Linked DNA regions of Homo sapiens: all the other regions are linked to region 4. Evidence: fine-mapped expression QTL. A gene starts in region 4. Each other region holds a variant in brackets. All regions are shown on one strand. Distances are from middle to middle. Region 1 overlaps CPS1 (carbamoyl-phosphate synthase 1). Region 2 overlaps LANCL1 (LanC like glutathione S-transferase 1). Region 3 holds the start of LANCL1 (LanC like glutathione S-transferase 1). Region 4 holds the start of CPS1 (carbamoyl-phosphate synthase 1).

The links.
Region 1: its variant is fine-mapped to the expression of CPS1 in fibroblasts (GTEx, PIP 0.97).
Region 2: its variant is fine-mapped to the expression of CPS1 in tibial nerve (GTEx, PIP above 0.99). The same link has a PIP of 0.9 or more in atrial appendage.
Region 3: its variant is fine-mapped to the expression of CPS1 in lung (TOPMed, PIP above 0.99). The same link has a PIP of 0.9 or more in blood mononuclear cells, coronary artery, esophagus mucosa, esophagus muscle, fibroblasts and left ventricle.

The regions. Positions count from the first base shown.
Region 1 is chr2:210,603,315-210,608,537 of GRCh38, forward strand. CPS1 (carbamoyl-phosphate synthase 1) reads left to right here. Exons shown (of 38, transcript NM_001875.5): 17 at 1,788-1,932; 18 at 3,417-3,627; 19 at 5,047-5,223. Among named protein-coding and RNA genes, the nearest start is that of CPS1-IT1, 12 kb to the right of the region's middle. The variant G/A (reference allele first, on the strand shown) is at 3,033.
Region 2 is chr2:210,463,400-210,468,622 of GRCh38, forward strand. The region is part of intron 3 of LANCL1 (LanC like glutathione S-transferase 1); the gene reads right to left. It overlaps LANCL1-AS1 (LANCL1 antisense RNA 1), which reads left to right. Exons shown (of 5, transcript NR_110606.1): 4 at 5,106-5,185. Among named protein-coding and RNA genes, the nearest start is that of LANCL1, 11 kb to the right of the region's middle. The variant C/G (reference allele first, on the strand shown) is at 2,754.
Region 3 is chr2:210,475,229-210,480,451 of GRCh38, forward strand. It overlaps LANCL1 (LanC like glutathione S-transferase 1), which reads right to left and starts at 1,531. Exons shown (of 10, transcript NM_006055.3): 1 at 1,392-1,531; 2 at 1,088-1,184. The coding sequence starts at 1,168. It also overlaps a transcript of CPS1 not described here. The variant G/A (reference allele first, on the strand shown) is at 2,520.
Region 4 is chr2:210,553,690-210,558,912 of GRCh38, forward strand. It overlaps CPS1 (carbamoyl-phosphate synthase 1), which reads left to right and starts at 2,910. Exons shown (of 38, transcript NM_001875.5): 1 at 2,910-3,170. The coding sequence starts at 3,045.

The DNA of each region.
Region 1 (5,223 bases), 50 kb after region 4:
TAGAATTTTGAAAACAGATAAGTACAATTCAGCATATTTAAATAACTACAATGGCAGACTTACATATAAACAACTTGGGTTTCGTTTTTCTAAAGTTGTGAAAATTACAAAAAAGGGAAACATACCTCACATAAATGTTTCTTGTTACCATTCTGGACATATGAATCACATATTTAGAGCAAAAACATGTTTTTGAAGATAGAAAGTTTATTTCCTCTAGCATGTTAGAGGCTCCAAATATTTTCAATATTAACAACTTCATAACTGCCAATTGTGACAGTGTATACATATTCTCTATTAATTTTTTTACTCTATAAGAAACCAATCTGAAGACTGAACTTTTCATGTAAGAAAGTTTATAATAAAGAGAATTTTGGAATGAAATAGCTTTCAATTATTTATATTGTACTCAAATAATCAATAGTCCCTTAAATGGTTTTTCTTGTTGAAAAAAACCCTCGCTCTTCCCTTGAGAATAATTAGTCATATCATTATGTCCTAAACAATCCCCTATTCTCTTGAGGTTATAATTAGCACCATTAAAAGCTGCATTAACTTATCCAGGTCCCTAAATTAACTTTTTACATAAAATCGAAGACTTCAAAAAATAAAAATAAAAATAAGCTGAGGAAACAGGTGAAGATAATTTCAAATTTTCCCTGTATCTAAATATCCATTTTACTTCATTAGAATGCAAAATACTTTTCCAAATTTATACCCTTTGTTTCCTAGATTTCTTCTTTTAGCAGGCAACCGGAATGATGAATTAATCATTATTAAATTGTTAACATTGGCTACTGAATTTTCTAACCACTTTGAGAACCTCATCGTGGGCAGCTGTGGGGACAAATGTGTCACATTTTCATTTGCACGTGCTGGAGCCTGTAGTGATGACTGAAGTTTAAAAAAATCCTATTAAGGCACATTACAGAAAAACTTACATTAAATTATTATTTTAATGCCTATTAATAATTTGAAAAAATTCAAACTGCTTTCCCTTTCACTGTCAATCCAAATCAAATATATTATAAGACAATAAGACATTTCTCCCTTGGATTATCAGCCACTGCATGTCCTAAGGTCAAAGATTACCACTTTCCTATTTTGGGTTCAGTATTCTACCCATTGTGGGTGTGCCGTAAATATGAAATTATAATTATGCTAATTCATATCTGTCTAATCAGGCATACATGATATATGACTCAGAGTATTTAAGCATTTAGGCAGTGATTAACCATAATAATAGTCCCATATGATTCTTCTAATTCTCAAGTTTTATATGCCATCTTGGCTAACCGTTTACAACCATCATCATCTCCTTTCTCCTCCTCATCAACATCAACTAACTTTTATTGTGTGTGTCACTGTACAAAGCACCCTCAGCTATTTTAGAGAGAGCCAGAGTCTTTAGACTTATTTTTCCATATTTATTCACACTTATCACATTTTCTGGTTTCACAGAAGCCTAGCTGCTGAAATAATTTCATTTCCCTCTGCCTGATTGCTCAATTATTTTCTCTTTTTCCTAAATTAGTTTGATTTACTGTCATATCAGCACTTTGAATGGCAAGCCTCAATAATGTAAATCAAGCATATTCACTGCAGGATGCTATTCCTAGTACCTCACTGATTTTCTGACACATTGTGCCTTCTGTGCAGGGGAGAATGGAGACGGGGTTTGAGAGTTCAGTGCTGACCAGGATTTATGCCAGGGTATTTTGCCAAATATCCTTGTTGAAGCCAGTGCTTTTTCTTACTCTTTGATATCTTTTGTCACCAATTTCTAGGCCTTTGCTATGACCAACCAAATTCTGGTGGAGAAGTCAGTGACAGGTTGGAAAGAAATAGAATATGAAGTGGTTCGAGATGCTGATGACAATTGTGTCACTGTCTGTAACATGGAAAATGTTGATGCCATGGGTGTTCACACAGGTAGGCAAAGTATCTTCAAGAACTATAGTAATGCTTTCAGTTCATGTCTTTGATGGCCAAGGCAGTCTTTATAAAGTTGTTGCCTTTAAATTACTATTTCTAGTTGACAGACTAGTGATAACATTTTGGACAAGCATAGTATTTTACAGTATTGAAAATGTTCTCACATTTAATTTGATCTTCACACAAACCCTGTGAAGTAAGGCGGATATTACACTGAGTTAATTGAGGAAGAGCCAAAGGTAAGCAATATGGTAGAAATAAGATCCATAAAACTTAGTGTTGAGAAATAAGAAGGGAGGTTGAGACAGTTTAAAGCAGACTGAGCTGGTAATCACCCAGTAAATGAGAAAATAGGCACAATAATAGAAATAAGTTTTTCAGAAAAGTACACTAGTTAGATAAGAGGGCAAAGATGATAACTTAGGATTTAAAAGTGCTAAATTTGGGGTGTGAGCAGAGCTGTCAAAAAAGGGAGTTGAGAATGTGGAGATGGAATTTAAGAAATAAAATAGAAATAAATAAGTTGATACAAAGACACTGGAAACTGTTGGCATAAAAGGGGAAATTGAAGTTGTAGGCATAGACAAAGTATTCAAGGACATAGGTATAGAAAGAGGAGAGAATAGGGTTGAACTTTGAACTCTGGGAAACATTTAGATTTATAGGGCAGGGGAAAGAGGAAGTATTACTGTTGAAGATAGAAGGGGAGAATAAAGAGTTAAGAGGAAAATCAGGTAGTACTGTACCAACTAAGCCAATGCAAGAACTATTTTATAAAAGAGCTTTGTTTTTGGCAGTATCAAATGCTATGCAAGACCAAGACTGATTATTTAATTTGGCTCTTTTGGATGTCCAAGAGAACAATTTCATTGCAAAGTCAGTTCTGTGAGCTCTATTAAAAGGAATTACATGGTATCAAGTGGTAAGCAGAATTGGCAAACTTTCAAGAAGCTCATTCATGTAAAGAATGAGAGAGAAGCTTTGTATGGTTGTCTGGCAATGTTGGGAGAAGACTTCCGGAGGCAGTGAAGATCTGAGCGTGTTTGAAGGCAGAAGGGATGGAGACTAAGATTGCAGATATAAGGGGCTATGATGAG[G/A]GAAGTGAAGATGGAAAGGGATGAGATACAGAAAGCCAGCTGATGAGCCAGTCTGAGTGATAATATTCAATGAAAGGAAGAACTTCAGAAATAATTTGAGATGAAGAGCAGGGAAGTTGAAGTCAATCTAGTAAGTAGACGATTGAAGCCTTGATAGCTACTTACTAGATAGATGAACTTGGGAAAGGTTAGAGAGGTTTCTAAAAGTACTGTATCAGAGTAATATGGGCAAAACAGGAATTGGGGGAATACCTGATATCACATATATATCCCAACAAACCCTCAGACTGTTCTATGTCTTGCATCGTGCAAGTAGATGGTTAAGTCGCTGAAGTTGGTTATTTCAATATGCCACCAAGTAATGAGTGCTTCTTGGATATATAGGTGACTCAGTTGTTGTGGCTCCTGCCCAGACACTCTCCAATGCCGAGTTTCAGATGTTGAGACGTACTTCAATCAATGTTGTTCGCCACTTGGGCATTGTGGGTGAATGCAACATTCAGTTTGCCCTTCATCCTACCTCAATGGAATACTGCATCATTGAAGTGAATGCCAGACTGTCCCGAAGCTCTGCTCTGGCCTCAAAAGCCACTGGGTAAGACCAGAATAATTGACCATGGGTTTGCAGATTCTTTTCAGATAGAAATGAAAAATTGACAGATAGTGGAAGACTGTACTGCATTTACAAACTATGTTCCCTTTTTCTGTATGTTAGCTCCAAATCATTTATAGCACCCTGAGGACATGATTATTAATGAGCTTGTTGCCAGATTGAGGTAAATTATATTGCTAGCTGGCTTTGTTTGCAGGCTAATCTAAACGAATCAAAATCTAGGTGGCTAAAGCAGGCTGTGAAAAATCTGCTTCCTAATTGCACTTTGCAGATGTTGTTAAAAGTGCAGATTAATCCTTAATTTTAGTCTTCAGCTGTTTTCTTCAGGTGTATAGCCCTATAGCAAATAGTTGACAGAAAATATAGCTCACTTGACTCAAGCATGCAATACACATTACTTTTATTTTATCAAAACTCCACAAGACTGAACAGTGCGGAATTTTTTCACAAGTAACTGTTACAACCAAACAAATACATCTGCTGTCTATGTAACAGCCACTAGCAGGCATGATTGGAGGGAAAGGTAATCAAAACCTTTGGTTTCTAATAATATATTTAGCACCTTACACTTAAATTATGGCATTTAAATGAACACAATATTTACTTCTTTATATTTTTTTTACGTAGTTCCACAGCACTGCGTGGAGTGGTGAAAGGCATGTTGCCCTGTACAGGAGTCACAATTCTGCATTCTCACTTGGTTCTTCTGTTGACCGTGTGATTTTGAGCACATCACTCATTGTCTTTATCAGTTTCCTCATTTGTTAGGTGGAAGTTGTACTAAAGAACTCATTTTTAATTCTATAGTTCTATGAATTATTTTCTCAAACAGAATAACCCAAACTGACATTCTGGATGAAGATAGTCAAGTTCTCAAAGTGTTAGTTTTGTAAGGAGCCCAAAGTTCAAAGATAATTTGGAGACAGAGCAAGGACCCAAACTTGAAATGCCTACATTTTCTGACCATTATGTACTCTCTTGTACTAGCTAACTCCACTGTATTCTTAGGTACAGATATGTATATGTACAGATATGTATATATTTTCTCAAAAAATATTTTGCAGATTCTCATCTTAGTGGAGGTTAAATACAAATAAAGGTTAAACTTTATTTATCAATAAAGCTATCGATTTTGGGTTGAAGAGGTGAAGGTTGAGCGTTGTAGCAATGCATGTAGTGCACAGAGAGTAAATTCTCCTGTGACCTGTGCCTCTATACTTTGTATCATGACTCCTATTATTCCGCAAGTGGCTACTAAATATTGATGCAGAACAGAGAATCAAGTGTCTTATACCCTGAAGTAGAATAATACCAGAAATTTTAAGAAAGACCAATTTATGTTTTGGTCTGTTTTCAATAATTGCTCGAAGAAAAAAAAATAAATTTGTCTTCTTTTTATAGCTACCCATTGGCATTCATTGCTGCAAAGATTGCCCTAGGAATCCCACTTCCAGAAATTAAGAACGTCGTATCCGGGAAGACATCAGCCTGTTTTGAACCTAGCCTGGATTACATGGTCACCAAGATTCCCCGCTGGGATCTTGACCGTTTTCATGGAACATCTAGCCGAATTGGTAG
Region 2 (5,223 bases), 90 kb before region 4:
ATTAGTGAATTAATGCAACACACTTAAAATGGTGCCTGGCATACAACAGTAGTTATTGGTGTACGTGCCTGCACCCTGTCTTGTCATTCAGATGTTAACTGCAGTAACATTTTATCACCACGAAGAGTGTTTTAATCTTACTCCTGTCCTCCAACAGTCAAATGATCATAAAACTGCATACTGATGATCTTTATTCCCTTGGGAACCAACATTCAGTCAATCTATTTTATTATTCTTTTTTTGAACATTATAGAAGTAATTTGTTAAGTCTAATTTACTGTCTGAAAAATTGATTAATCATAACATCTCATTCCTGAATGAGCATGAGAGAGACCAGAGGGATTTATGGTAATAACTGCCTCTTTAGACAATATGGGACAGCTACAGGTTTTTAAAATTCTTCCCTCCTTTCTTTCCCACGGTCAGGGCATTTTTACCTCTGCTGTGAATAAAAAAGGTAAAAGTCAGGGATACAGCTTGTAAAATTGCACTATGACAACTCACAGGTGTAAATATGTAGGCTGCAGTGGAAATGACGTTTGAGTTCTATTAAAAGTTCATGTTAACCAATCTCTTCACTATTTCATACCCTCTGCTTCAATTTTAAAATAAAAGCCAAGATAATTTCAGTTGTAAAACAGTTTGTAAAGTAAGTGTAAAGTACTTTCTTAAGCAATTATTTGCTTCTGTTACATTTCTATTTAAACCTGTACATATCACCCTTACCAACAAAGCATTGTGTATATACGAATTATTTGGAATAATCCTATTCTAAATCCTAATCTTATCTGAACTAGCGTTAATTATCAGACCATCTACATACTACTGGGGAATGAAACAACAAAATAAAATTGTAAAGTCCTAACTAATTGTAATAATCATTTTACTAAGCATGTTTAACACTCAGAAGTACTTTAGCAGAATTCTAATAAGTACCTTCTATTAGTTTTAATTTTTGTTGAAAAGATAGATGGGGAAAAAAAGGAGTCAGTTTTTCAGTTCCAAGTGCAGTGGGCTTTTAAACAACATGGGTCTGAACTGCATGGGTCTACTCGTACACAGATTTAAAAATATATATATATAGTGGAAACTTTTTTGGGCTTCTGTCGACAATTTGAAAAAACTTGCAGATGAACTGTGTAGACCAGAAATATCGAAAAAATTAAGAAAAAGGTGTGTCATGAATGCACAAAATATATATAGTTACTAGTCTATTTTATCACTAGGATAAAATATACACAAATCTATTATAAAAAGCTAAAATTTATTAAAACTTATGCGTACAGGCCGGGCGCGGTGGCTCACGCCTGTAATCCCAGCACTTTGGGAGGCTGAGGCGGGTGGATCATGAGGTCAGGAGATCGAGACCATTCTGGCTAACAAGGTGAAACCCCGTCTCTACTAAAAATACAAAAAATTAGCCGGGTGCGGTGGCGGGCGCCTGTAGTCCCAGCTACTCGGGAGGCTGAGGCAGGAGAATGGCGTGAACCCGGGAAGCGGAGCTTGCAGTGAGCCGAGATTGCGCCACTGCAGTCCGCAGTTCGGCCTGGGTGACAGGGCGAGACTCCGTCTCAAAAAAAAAAAAAAAAAAACTTATGCGTACAGACTGTACATAGTGCCACCTGCAGTCAAGAGAGATGTCAAAAAATGTAAAGATGAAAAATAACTTCGTAAATTAACTCCAGTGCATACTGTAGTACAGCAATAACTTCTTAGCCACCTCCTGTTGCTGATGTGAAATCAAGTGTTGCTCCACTTAAAATAACATGTGATGTGAATTATCTCTGCTTGAGATCATTATCTCTGTCTCTCCAGTAAATTACATATCACAGGAAAGAGTAATCTCTTCTGATTCTTGCATATTTTTAATTGTTTTTAGTGCAATATTGTAAACCTTGAATAACACCATGGGACACATACAAAGTGCCACTAGTGATGCTGAAAGTGCTTCCACGAAGCAGAAAAAAGTCGTGACATTACACGAAACACCTGAACTGCTTGATATAATGTAACCATAGATTGAGGTCTGCAGCTGCAGTTGCCTGCCATTTTAAGATAAATGAATCCAGCATAAGGACCACTGTAAAGAATGAAAAGGAAATTCATGAAGCCATCACTGCAGTTACAGCAGCAGGCACAAAAACCTTGCATTTTTAGTGAAACTGCAGTACATATTGAAAATGTAGCCTTTATGTTGGTGCAGGACTCTAAAATGATTCAAGAAAACGTGAAGTCAATATACGGCAACTAGAAGCAAAACGATCTAAAGCTGTATGATTTAATGCCAGCAAGGGTTGGTTTGATAATTATAGGAAGAAGTTTGGCTTAAAAAAATGTCAAGATAACAGAAGCAGCAGCTTTTGCCAACCAAGAGGCAGCAGACAAGTTCCCAGGTACGATGAAGAAAAATCGAGGAGAAAGGCTATCTGCCTGAAAAGGTTTTGAACCCTATTCTGGGGGGGGAAAAGCCACAAAGGACATGCATTAGTAAGGAAGAGAAATGACCACCAGGATTTAAGGCAAGAAGGAACAGACTAACTCTACTGTTTAATGCAAATGCTGTAGGGTTTATGATCAGGACTACCCTTATTTATAAAGCTGCCAACCCCTTGGTCTTGAAGAGAAAAGATGAGCACCAGCTGCCAATCTTTTGGTTGTACAGGAAAGCTTGGACAACAAGAACCTTTTTTAATCGTTTGGTTCCACCAATGCTTTCTCCTTGATGTAGGGAAATATCTTGCCAGTAGGGACTG[C/G]CTTTTAAAGTTTTTTCAATAGTGCACAATGCCCCTAGCTACCCAGAACCCAAGAGTTCAACACTGAAGACATCAAAGTGGTCTACTTGCCCCAAACAGGTCTCTAATTCAGCCTCTACATCAGGGGGTCATAAGGACCTCTCAGGCTCATTATAAATAGTACTTTACGGAACGGATTGTCAGTGCTATGGAGTACACTGTGGAGATAAAAGTGACTCCATCTTGTAGGCTAATCCTCTACACAGACTTCTGATTAGCCCCGGCCCCGTGAATGCCTCCTGGTTTTTACTTTATTTACTGCCCCTAGTATAAGAACAAAGGAACCTTGGTGCTAATGCACAAATTATAGGCTGTGATACACATAGCCGTCTTGCCTGTTTTTGAGGGTTGCCTTTCCCTATGGTATGTAAGCCCTGGGTCTCTGGAGTAGCAGTGTTGAGATCTTCCTGCCTTGTGGCTGACCAAGACCATGCTTGTGTCTCTAAGTTCTCCAATAAAACAGCCTTTACTGACAAATTGGATTTTCTGCCTCCTCCTTTGATTTTTCAGCTACTTCAGCATTTGGGGGTCACTTTGCATATGTGACCCTTTCACGGAACAAACCAGATAGAGAGAACATCATGAAAGTCTAGAAGAATTACACCACTGAGATGCCATCGTTGATACAGTAAAGCCACAAAAACCATCAAGGCTGAAACAATAAATTCCTGCTGGAGAAAACTGGGTTCAGATAGTGTGCATGACTTCACAGGCACCAATCAAGGAGATCATGAGAGAGATGTGGATATGGCAAAAAAAAAGGTGGGGGATGGGGATGAAGGATTTCAAGATATGAATCTTGGAGAAATTCAAGAGCTAATAGACGCCACACCAGAGGAATTAACAGAAAGCAACTTGATGAAGATGAGTTCTTATGAACCAGTGCTAGAGGATGAGGAAGATATAGAAGAAGCAGCACCAGAAAATGAACTGATGTTAGACAGTCTGGCAAAAGGGTTTTGATTATTCAATACTGCTTTTTACTTCATTTCTGACACGGATTCGTATATGGTATGGGCACTGACACTAAAGCAAATGGTGGAAGAATTGCCAACGTACAGATATTTTTAGAGAAATGAAAAAGCAAAAACGTCCGACAGAAATTACGATGTATTTTTGCAAAGTTACTGAGTGTTCCTGCCTTTCCTGCCTTCCCTTCCACCTCCCTTCACTTCTTCTGCCTCTGCCACCCATGAGAGCAAGACCAATTCTTTATTTTCCTCCTCTTCCTCAGCCTACTTAATGTGAAAACGAGGATGAAGACCTTTATAATGATCCACTTCCACTCAATGAACAGTAAATGTATTTTCCCTTCCTTATGATTTTCTTAACATTTTCTTTTTTCTACCTTATTGTAAAAATACAGAACAGATTAAATGTAACACACAAAATATGTGTTAATCAACTATTTATGTTATCAGGAAGGCTTCCTCAACAGCAAGCTATTAGTAGTTAAGTTTTGGGGGAGACAAAAGTTATACATAAACTTTTGAGAGTGTCAATGGGCATGTGCCCTTAAACTGCACATTGTTAAGGGTCAACTTTACACATCTAACATTAAACACATGAATGTGTCATCTCTTCACTAGAACCCTTTCATTTTCAAGATCAACTGAGCAACTAAGACAAATCTAGACACACCATGAATGAGGTATTAAGAAGTTGGGCAGCCCAGTTTTGTAGCTTTCTTTAGAGTCATGAAGTAGAAACAAAGACATACAATTATGGGGTTTAGTATGAATTGATGCATGGTACAAATTGGAAACTTTATAATTTTGCAATAGAAAATAAGGGTTTGGGAGAAAGCAGAAAAGAATGGCAAGTAACTGTTTAATAAAGCTACAAAAATAGTAATGTTTTACAGTATTAAGTTTAGAATCAATCGCTAGTCCCTTCTAGATTTAAGTTACACTTAGCTCTAGGAAAATTATGATTCGACATTCCTATAATACTTACTTTCTGTGGCAGGCTTTACGCAAAGACTTACTGAATGAAAAAAAAAAAACACAAAACTTTAAGGTGTTGTGAATCAAAATCCAAATCAATCTCCCTGGAAACAAAGAACAGATAAAATATTGCTTGGAAAATTTCAAAATATTTTATAGACACTGGTAAATTTATCCCCCCAAAAATCCCCCAAAAAGTGAACAGAAGAGATCCTTTAGCAGACATAAAAATTGAGGCTCACTGTCCAAATGCCTTGTGCAAAACATAGAAGTCAAGAAAAAAATCATTTTTCTTGTTATATAGAAGTTACAGCAAAGACTACTAGGTCTTATCCCAAAGTTCACTCTCCTCTTCCTCTATTAACAGAACCCAAGCTAAAAGACTGCATTTACTACCCTTCCTTGCTAACAAGAGTGACTACGTGACTATGTTCTGGCCAATGCAAAGTAAGCACAACTGAAATGTTGAGTGGGACTTCCAGGAA
Region 3 (5,223 bases), 78 kb before region 4:
ACATAAAATGTCTTTTGTATGGCTGACAAGTTTCAAAGAAATAAACTGGTAAAATTTTTAAAGCGTGTGCCTTGTTTCCAACTTAACTCATTTTCAAAACTAAATTTTATTTTTTTATTTTTTAGAGACAGGGTCTCTGTCACCCAGGCTAGAGTGCAGTGGTGCAATCATAGCTCACTACAGCCTCGAATCTCCTAGGCTCCAGCAATTCTCCCGCCTCAGCCTCCCAAGTAGCTGGGACTACAAGCTTTCCACCACACCTGGCTAATTTTTAAAAAAATTTTAGTAGAGATAAGGTCCTGCTGTGTTGCACAGGCTGGTCTCAAACTCGTGGCCTTAAGCAATCCTCCTGCCTTGATTTCCCAAAGTGTCGGGATTAATGGTGTGAGCCACTGCACCCAGCCAAAAGTAGGTATTCTTAAAAATATCTGTATTCCCTCTTAACAATTATGTTCACCCAATGAGGCATGAGAAAACACAGGCCCCTAGTATTTTACATCCAGGTTCTCTTTTGCACAGTGATTTGTGACATGCTAACCAGTTTAATTTACAAGTTTCTTTTTTTTTGTTTTCCAGCTGTGGATATGCCCTGTGGAGTGACACCGGTACAAAGAACTTCAGGTTTCCTAGGTCCCCAAATTCTCTAAGCACTAACAGTTTAAAGACGTCCTTACCATACACCACCGTTTGCTCTCATCATTACCCTGAACGCACTTGTGTATAATCACAAAGGAGTAACACGGCACATGTGAATACCGTTAGGATTCTTCACCTCTTTTTAAGAAGCAAACCAAAATACATTAAAAAATGCCAATTACATAGTAAACTACATATTTGCCAATTTTTAAAATTTATACTATCAATAATTGAGTTTATTTCAATTAATAATGTTAACAATGACACATTTAACATTATGTTAGAGCTCAATTTGTATATATTAACATGTATTTTTAAATAATTTACGTATTTATCGTCGAATCATGTATTTTTTTAAAGGGGGATGCTCAACTCTCTCAGGCAAAAATGAGCACCTTTCCGAACACCGTGGGGAGAGGCAGGGATGCAGGCAGACATATCCTAAACTCACCCTCCCGGCAGCATCAAAGTAGCCTTCGGCCAGGGATTTGTTATAATCAGCATAAGGATTCGGGAAGGCCCTTTGAGCCATGACGCCGGAAGCAAGCCTGCAGAACAGGGGAAAAACAGAAACTAGGTTGAGATAGGGGCCTCGGCCGAGTTGCGAGGGCGGCGGCGGCGCCCAGGTATCCCCCTTCCTCCAGCTCCAGGGCCATCGAGCCGTCTCGGCGGTCCGAGTGGACCTCGGGCCCACTGCGGCCCAACTGCTAGGACATGGCGCCTTCGCGAAAAAGCTGCCAGGGCCCTTAACCCACCCGGACAAAGAGGCCCCGTTTTGCAACCCCGTTCCCACGCCCGCGACTTGAAGCAAGTGCGCCTCCCGCGTCCTGAAGCCCTTCTCGGCCCTGGCCTCTCACCCCGCAGCCCCGGACAGTAACAGAAGGGCTATTTTACCGCCCAGTTCCTGCCAGGAGGGCCAATCAGAGCCTTCGCCGTTCCCGAGACCCGCCCCCTTCTCTCTTACAGTTTGTTAAAGACACAGGCGTGTAATTTCTAAAGGATAACGCAGGGTATTTTAATTACTGGGTAGCAGAAGTGAGGACCTAGAATCACGCGGAGATGTGACCAATATTTCCTACCCTTCTTTAATTTTTCTTATTTTTAAAAAGTCAAATTTAAGTCCAGAGTCATAAGAAGTATATATTTTTTTAACCTGGAGAAGAAACAGACTGCTTTTAGATCTGAACATGCTGGTATTTCTGCTGTTCGCAATAGATAAAATTTGGCGGGGGGTGGGGGGATAATGTCTCTCCAGGGACTTGCCAATCTTTTCTTTTCATTTCTTAAAACAAACAAACAAAAAAGCACCACCATCATTAACAACAACAACAACAAAAATATGCCCAAAGGACAGGATATCAAATAGCAGTTGATAATACTTTGGGGAAAGCACATGAAAACACAAATTACAGCTCTTAGGAAATTTATTCTGTTCCTTAGCCTAAATTGGACTATAATACTGGATAACAAAGCTCTAAAAAATACTGAAAACCAACACAGCAGGAGATCCACAACATTCAATTTCAATGTTTTAACAGTCCCTGCTATCTGAAACATTTTTCTTTCATTTAAAATTAAATCCCACCTGGTACATATTAGGCCCATTCTATTGCTCAGAGAATTTTGGAGTTCAGTTAAAAAGTCAGCCTCACTCTCTCCTTTTCCTTCTCTCCGGTTTCAATGAAGAGTCCTAGCTCCAGACCTCCAACTGGAGAAGCTCAGTCTCCACCCCAACTCCCTCCCTCCTTGGCCTAAGTTTGTCCTTCTGAGGCTGCCATCCCAAACTCTACTCCTAATCCCTCCCCACACCCAGGTTTGCTCTTTTAAAATAGTTGCTTTCTTAGGAAATGTAGTTGCTTTCTTAACCTCATCAAATTCATGAA[G/A]ATTTAGCCGAGGCCCATGGTGAGTCTTAAGCTGGATATCTCTCATGTTTTAAAAGATGGGTGTTTGAAGGAGCAACTCACAAGAGAGAAAAGGAAAACGAGAGACATTTTATCAATTATTTTTTCTTTAATGATTAAAGGCTATCCATTTATCCCACTCACAGTCTTTAAGCAATTAAATATTACTGTTGTTAAGCAAGGCAGGATGGTAATTGTATATTTTCATAGTATGCCTCTATCTTATTTTACTAATCCTTTCCCCTAATGATGGACATTGTTTCTAACTTCCATACTACAAATAATATTCTTGGAACATGTGCTTTTATGAATCTGTGTGAGTATCCCTGAGACATACACCCAGCAGTCAATTGCTGGATCATATGAGATTCTGTACTTAATTTCCCCAATGTTGTTAGATTGCTTTCCAAAACTGCTGGACTAGTTTATATTCCCTCTAACAGTATCTATTGTTCACTCCAAGAGTATTCACTCCAACATATCAATTGTTTCTGTCATTTCCATCTCCTCTCCAACACTTGGTATTATCTAGTGTTCTAATGTTTGCCATTCTAATGAATAATGTAGAATCTCACTGATGTTTAATCTTTTAGTTTTTCTGTGGCTAATGGTGTTGAACTTTCCTTCATATACCTGTTAGACAATTGGGCTTTACCTGTTCCTTTATTTATTTTTCTATTAGTGATTGCATTGTTTTCCTGTTGATTTGAAAGAGTTTTGTTTCTTTTTTTCCCGTGTTTGTGGGGTATATTCTGTATATTAATCTCCTTTCACTTTAGTTATTGTAGATACTTTCTTTAGTTTGTTCACATTTTCTAGGATATCCTTTATTGAATCACAATCTTTCATTTCGATGAAGTTAAACCCATCTAATTGTGACACTGTGATTTGAGGATTTAGCTTCATATTCAAAATGTCTTTGTCTACTCATAGACTGCAATGACTTCCCACATTTTATTTTATTAGCTTTTTACCTCTTATATTTAAGTCTTTATCTGGAGTTTACTTCTGAAGATGATGTGAAGCATGCGTCTAAACGGAAGGGAAGTAGAATTATTTAGAATTTAAATATAATCAAAGCATGTGACTTGTAAACACCCAAAGATTTTAATTGCTGGAAATAATATTTCCCTCCCTCCCTCCCTCCTCCCCCCTCCCCCCTTCCCCCCTCCCTTCCCTCCCTCCCTCCCTGCTTTCCTTCTCTTTCTTCCTTCCTTTTTGTCAGAGAACCAACCCAGAGAATCCCTCCTTGGTTCTGATACAAAAGAAAAGTATTTAACATTTATTGTTTGTATTTATCTACTCAGGCTGCCACACAAAGAACCATAGCAAGTGGCCTGAAACAACAGAAATGTATTTTTCCACAGTTGTGAAGGATAGAAGTCTGGGATTAAGATGTTAGCAGGACTGATTCCATCTGAGGCCTGTCTTGTTGGCTTGTAGATGCCGTCTTCTCCTATCTTCACATGGTTGTCCCTCAGTCTGTGTTGTCTGTGTCCTAATTTCCTCTTCTTACGACACCATCATAGTGGATTATGACTTCATTGAACCTTATCATTCTTTCTTTTTTTTTTTTTTTTTTGAGACGGAGTCTCGCTCTGTTGCCAGGCTGGAGTGCAGTGGCACGATCTCGGCTCACTGCAACCTCTGACTCCCTGGTTCAAGCGATTCTCCTGCCTCAGCCTCCAGAGTAGCTGGGATTACAGGCACACACCACCACGCCCAGCTAATTTTTGTATTTTCAGTAGAGACGGGGTTTCACCATGTTGGCCAGGCTGGTCTTGAACTCCTGACCTCAAGTGATATGCCTGACTTGGCTAACCTTACTTTTCTTTAAAGACCCTTCTCCAGCAGCCACATGCTGAGATAGTGAGAGTTAGGACTTCAACGTATGAATTTGGGGGGCAACAATTTTAGCCCCAAATAGTACCTATGCTTTCACCTGTGGCTATGGTGGCTGAACACATTTGTGGCTAACACAAATTTGACAGTTATAATTTTTTATGGATCATTCTACTTTTGATAAATTTAGGATGATTTTTTAAAAAAATGTAATGTTCCTTCTTTTAATCACTGTAGCTGTCTTGTGTGAACTTTCAGGAAATAATCATTGTATTATTGCCTCTAAAACTGAATACTTCTGGAAATCTGGGATGATTGATAACAGAGAAAACAACTATATTCTGAGGGCATTTTAGTTCCATTCTCAGACTTTAATTTCAAAATGTTATAATGTATATTAGGGTGAAAACTATGTTAGTTACAAAGAGGCCTCAAAACATAATCTCCAAAATACATAGAAATGTATTTTTCTTAGTTCAGATTAGATTTGCTCCATGTGGCCATTCAGGATCACAGATTCCTTCCATCTCTGTTCCCACCTCCCTCAGAGTGTGATGCTCTCATCAAGTCCATGCTGGTCATAGGTGTGTCGGTATTGCAGCTTGTGAGAAGGTCAGGCACACCCAGAGAAGTGCACAGACCAGGAAGTGGGATTTGTCACTTCCCTCGTGTTCTACTGGTGAGGATTTAGTCACTTGGCCACCTCTAGCTGCCCAGGAGGCTGTGAAATGAAGTTCTCTGCTGAACAGCTATGTGTTCAGCTACAATGAAAGAAGGGGAAGACTGACTTTGGTGGACAGTTAATGTCCTCCAATACATGATGGCAGTTTTAGTAACTGATAGC
Region 4 (5,223 bases):
CTTATTTTTTAAAATGTTTTGAAAAATAATCTGTCCTAAAAGTGTAACATTTCCACTAAATTTTTTCATGTCTGACTTTAACATTCCCTACCAACCAACTCTTATAGCCTCAACTCCTTTGATCTATCCTAATGTAAACTCCCTCACTAATGTGTAATATATTTTTTTCCAGTTTGGTTATAGATTTCAGTCTAGCCTGAACACTCAAGTATGAAACTAGCCACTATTTTATTTATTGGCTGTTCCAACCTCCATTGTGGAATTATAATTGATGGATTTTCCAAGTCTCTAATTCAGAATATTTAATCAAATTTTCCAAAATTTCTGCCTTCTCCTCCTTCATTCTGATGACTAAAGACATGGACCATAAAATATATATACATATATACATACATATGTATATGTATGTATATACACATATATATATGTATGTATATATACATACATATATATATGTATATATACACACACATATACATATGTATGTATATATACACACACACATATATATATGTATGTATATATATACACACACATATATATATGTATGTATATATATACACACACATATATATATGTATGTATATATATACACACACACACCGTAGTTTGCAAGTCTGCATCTGGGACCCTTTACTGATAAAAATGAAAGCCCATTAAAACTCTCATGCCCACATTTCTCTCTAGACTTTAGAGTAGGAGAATTCTATCCTAGAATTGTTGATTGTTGACATTTCTATGGAAAAACATGTTTAATTCATCATGCTTTGTAGTCAACTGCTATAAATGGTGATGAAGTCTTTTCCTTGGTCAAGCTCTGGACTCCTCAGTACTTCCACTGTCATATTTGATTAAAACATAAGTGATGAAGGGAGGAAATATATTATAGTATTCATTGCATGGGTACCTTAGGGTAATGGGACTATGACTGATTTAAATTTATTTTGCATCCTAAAAAGTTTCCATTAGTGGGTGCAGCACACCAGCATGGCACATGTATACATATGTAACTAACCTGCACAATGTGCACATGTACCCTAAAACTTAAAGTATAATAATAAAAGAAAAAAAAACTTAAAAAGAAAAGTTTCCATAATGAGGATTGAGTTTATATCGTTTTCTTAATTAAGGAAAGACAACCCTCACTACACACACACACACACACACACACACACACATAAAAAGACAAGAGGTGAGATCAAGGCGTAAACTAGTATTGGACTAAGCCAGTAAGTACTGCTTCTCAGTCCTCAGTTCTCTAGGTTGGGAGTTTTCCTTTTGCTATTTTCATTCTCCTCCAATTCATTTTTCAATGATCTTCAACACAAATTTCGCCTTTATTTCTTGTTCAAAATACTTCCATGACTATTATGAATACTATTTATGGATGAAGGCTGAACATTTTAAGGCATACTAAGTCTCCCATGATATGGTACCTTTTCATTTTCCCATTCTATACCCTGCATCTAGGCTTTTAAAAAATATACCACATGACTTCATGCCTCTAGGCTATTGCTCATGCCACGGCATCCCTTCTGGGTTTTTTCCCCTCTTTATCTACTTGGTGAATTTGCATCCTTCAGTATAACACAGCTCAACATAATTCTATGCTTAAACTTTACTGAAAATGCACAAGGAACTTGATCTTTCTTTCTTATTTTCCCCATTTTATTTATTTTCCCATTGCATTTGGGCAACTTTCATGGCACCAGTTATTTTATTAATTATTTGTATAAACTAGTATGAGCCTATTTTGTTTAGCTTTCTATCACCAGGAGCCATGAAGCACTTTGAAATCAAATACTGTTTGTACTTGAATATATTAAGTAAGCGTGAGGACTTAAATTAAACTTTGTTCCTCTTTAAAAAAATCCTTACCCCAACTCTAGCACTGATTCTATGTTATTGAAGCTTACAATCTTTATGTCATTTTCTGTCATCTTTTCTGTTATGAGAAGACCTAGGTATGAGTCTATTGCCTTTATTCCTTGGCCTTCTTTGCAAGGGTATCAAAGAACACTGCTGCAGTACTTCCTGTTCTACATAGTCATGTGACTTAAGCAAGAGCATCTGCCAGCCAGTGAGGCCCCTTGAGAGCCTGGTTAAACATGGGACTGAAGGGTTAAGTGAATCACTTTTTATTCATGTTGAAATATGAATGCTGAAGTTTGGAAAATTTTATATATAACATTTTAATAACTAAAAAAACTTGACTTAGGAATAGTGCTTATATTAAAATCAGTGTTTGTCATTGTTTCATGAAGTTTTTACAAATCTAAGAGGCTTAAGAGGGATATAATAGTCCACTTTGCTTTAGTTGTGTTTTACTTGATATTACTGATTGCTTTAACTTTGAAACACAGAACAATGCTATAGTAAGAATGTAGTATACTACTCTATTAACCCAAAACATAATATAGATAGGTTTATTGTATATTTGTGGAGAAAAGTTTATTCTAACGTTCTTTTTACAAATAGTAAAAATGCTATTTGTAGGATGCTCTGATTTTTACTTTTTGTAAAAAGAACATTGTCTTTTTACCCCAACAGAAAATGGCAAGCGTTCAGCTTTCTTTGGGAATCCAAAATCTCTTATGAGGCATATTAGGTATCACATGTGACATAAGCAAAAGCCTGTGATCCTTAGCATGTTGGAAAGTTGCTACTCTTTAGGATAAGGTTGTCCATGATGTCTAGGTCATTCCATTCAGCTGCATAAACAATTCCTTTGATGGATGGCTGGTTTTCTACAACCCCAGCATTATTTTAGCAGGAGAAGGTAGTATTTGATGTGTTGCAATTTGTGTTACATGCCCATGGAACATCTCTGGACATTACCTCAGGAGGAGGGGTTAAGAGAAGGAGGAGCTGTGGCTGAAGACATTTAATGGCAGAATGAATGGAAATTCAAAGATCGCTGTGCAGTCAGCCTTAAACACTGACTGCACCCCTCCCAGATTTCTTTTACATTAACTAAAAAGTCTTATCACACAATCTCATAAAATTTATGTAATTTCATTTAATTTTAGCCACAAATCATCAAAATGACGAGGATTTTGACAGCTTTCAAAGTGGTGAGGACACTGAAGACTGGTTTTGGCTTTACCAATGTGACTGCACACCAAAAATGGAAATTTTCAAGACCTGGCATCAGGCTCCTTTCTGTCAAGGTAATACCCATATTGATTGTTTCTGATAAAATACTATGGGGTATAGTTTAGCAGTGAAGCAAAGGTGTCCCTTACAAGGCAAATACAGTTTTGAATGTAGCTCTGAAGTACTAATGTATTAATGTTTCCTTTACTGTGGAACCTACTGACTTAGCAAATGCTAATTTTTATCTTATCTGAGTAACATGACAGTAATTTTTACCCAACATAAAGAATGATGACAATTCTTGTGAACATGTAAAATGTAAGTACACTGCTTGAAAAAGAAACATCTTTTCTTTCATAGATAGCTTTCTGTGACTAGATACTATTGCTTACAGTTTGGATTTAAAAAATGGAGCTGCTTATATGTGTGTGAGCCACATTATGGTACACAGTGTGTTAAGGTCTGTTCTATAAATAGGGCTTACTGAAAAGTTCTCTTTTGAAATATCATTTAAACATTTTAAAAACATAATTAGAAAATATGTGTTTTTGAGATTTGCAGGTCATCATGTAGACACTGCTTTAGCTTTTTCCTTTTCCTTCTGGCTGTTTTTTTGGGCAGGCTAAACTTATTATTTTCATTTTGTAGAGTAATACATAGAGGCAGATAGCAGCTGATAATTCTGTCCCTCCACAGGTATCTATAATTGAGAGGGCAAGCCCAGGAAAGAAACATTAATTGCCCTTCTTCCTGCCCCCCAGCATTGAATTATGAAATTCCTGTAGGAACCTCTGCTCCTTCCTGCAACTTTATGAAGACGTTCATTATCAGAGAAGCCTGAAGTTACTCCATAGGAACTTTGCCAATGAAAATAATCTTTAGTGACTATAAGTTTAAGTAATTATATTAGCTTTAGATATATTGCTTCTTTAGCAGCAAAAGCTGTAAAATTTGAAATAGAAAAAACAAAAGAAAACCTCTGTCTGTTGATGTGAAAATGGGAACTCACAGTTTGGAGTGTTCTGCTTATACTTTGCATGCTCATTGAGTTGACTAAGCTTCTATTGTTTCAGTTGCTCAAGTCAGGATTCAGTGGGGTTTTGGTCCTGACACCTGCAAGGCCAAGGAATATTCATAGATTCCTGTGGCTGCCAGGGATAGGGATGGGAAAGGAATGGGAGTAAAAGAAAAGGAAGAGAGATGGAGACAGGGGGAGGGGAAGGGGAGAAGTGTGAGGGATGGGAGGGAGAGAGAGAGAGAAAGAGAGAGAAACTAGCTCAAGATCCCAGGAGAAAAGAGGAAATACATATAGTAGCCTTAGTGGTGTGTTAACAACTTCAGCCTTTAACATTGAGAAGATTCTAACAAGAGTATAGGAAATTACCATTTTAAATTAAGAAAACCAGAAAGGAAAATGTCTTTTATGTTGTTACATATTCCAATGTATCCAATTTTACTCTTTTTAAATGGACATCATGTTTTAAAGATAGTTAAAATCATTAGGATGTAGTTACATAATGGCCATAAAGGGCACTGGGAGCAGTCACTAAAGGTTAGTGGCATTATGTCTAGTTATATATATTTTCTTGAATTTAGCTTAATTATAGCAAAAGAATGGGAAAGGAGAATATTCTAAACTAACATCAAAGACATTGTAACTAGATGTAAACTATGAGAATTTATTGTTAGTAATACCTCAAGGTACTCATGTATCAGTTCAGAGAAAATCAATAGTAATGAAAGTTATCCCCTATGATTATATGTGCCATCTAATACTTCAAAGTTGGGTGACTTGGAATATCTTCTTCTCACTCTGTGAGAAGGTAGGTATGTAGGTAAGGATAGGTGCATCTTCATCAGACCCCAGAAACCGCGAAATTGAGTACTTACTTAAAATGGCACAGATATGATTGAAATTAGAATCCAATTCTCCAAGATCACAATAAGTGCTCCATACAACCACCACCACAATCACAACCACGACAAAATGGTCTAATTATGTGGATGGATTACTGTGAAAGCAGTTCTAGCTCATGGTGACAGATCTGTTTCAAGGGTCTGTCACAGTGCACAGCTAAGAATGACAAATTTGTAGGAGCACTAAGCCATCATTTCATGGTGTAAAAG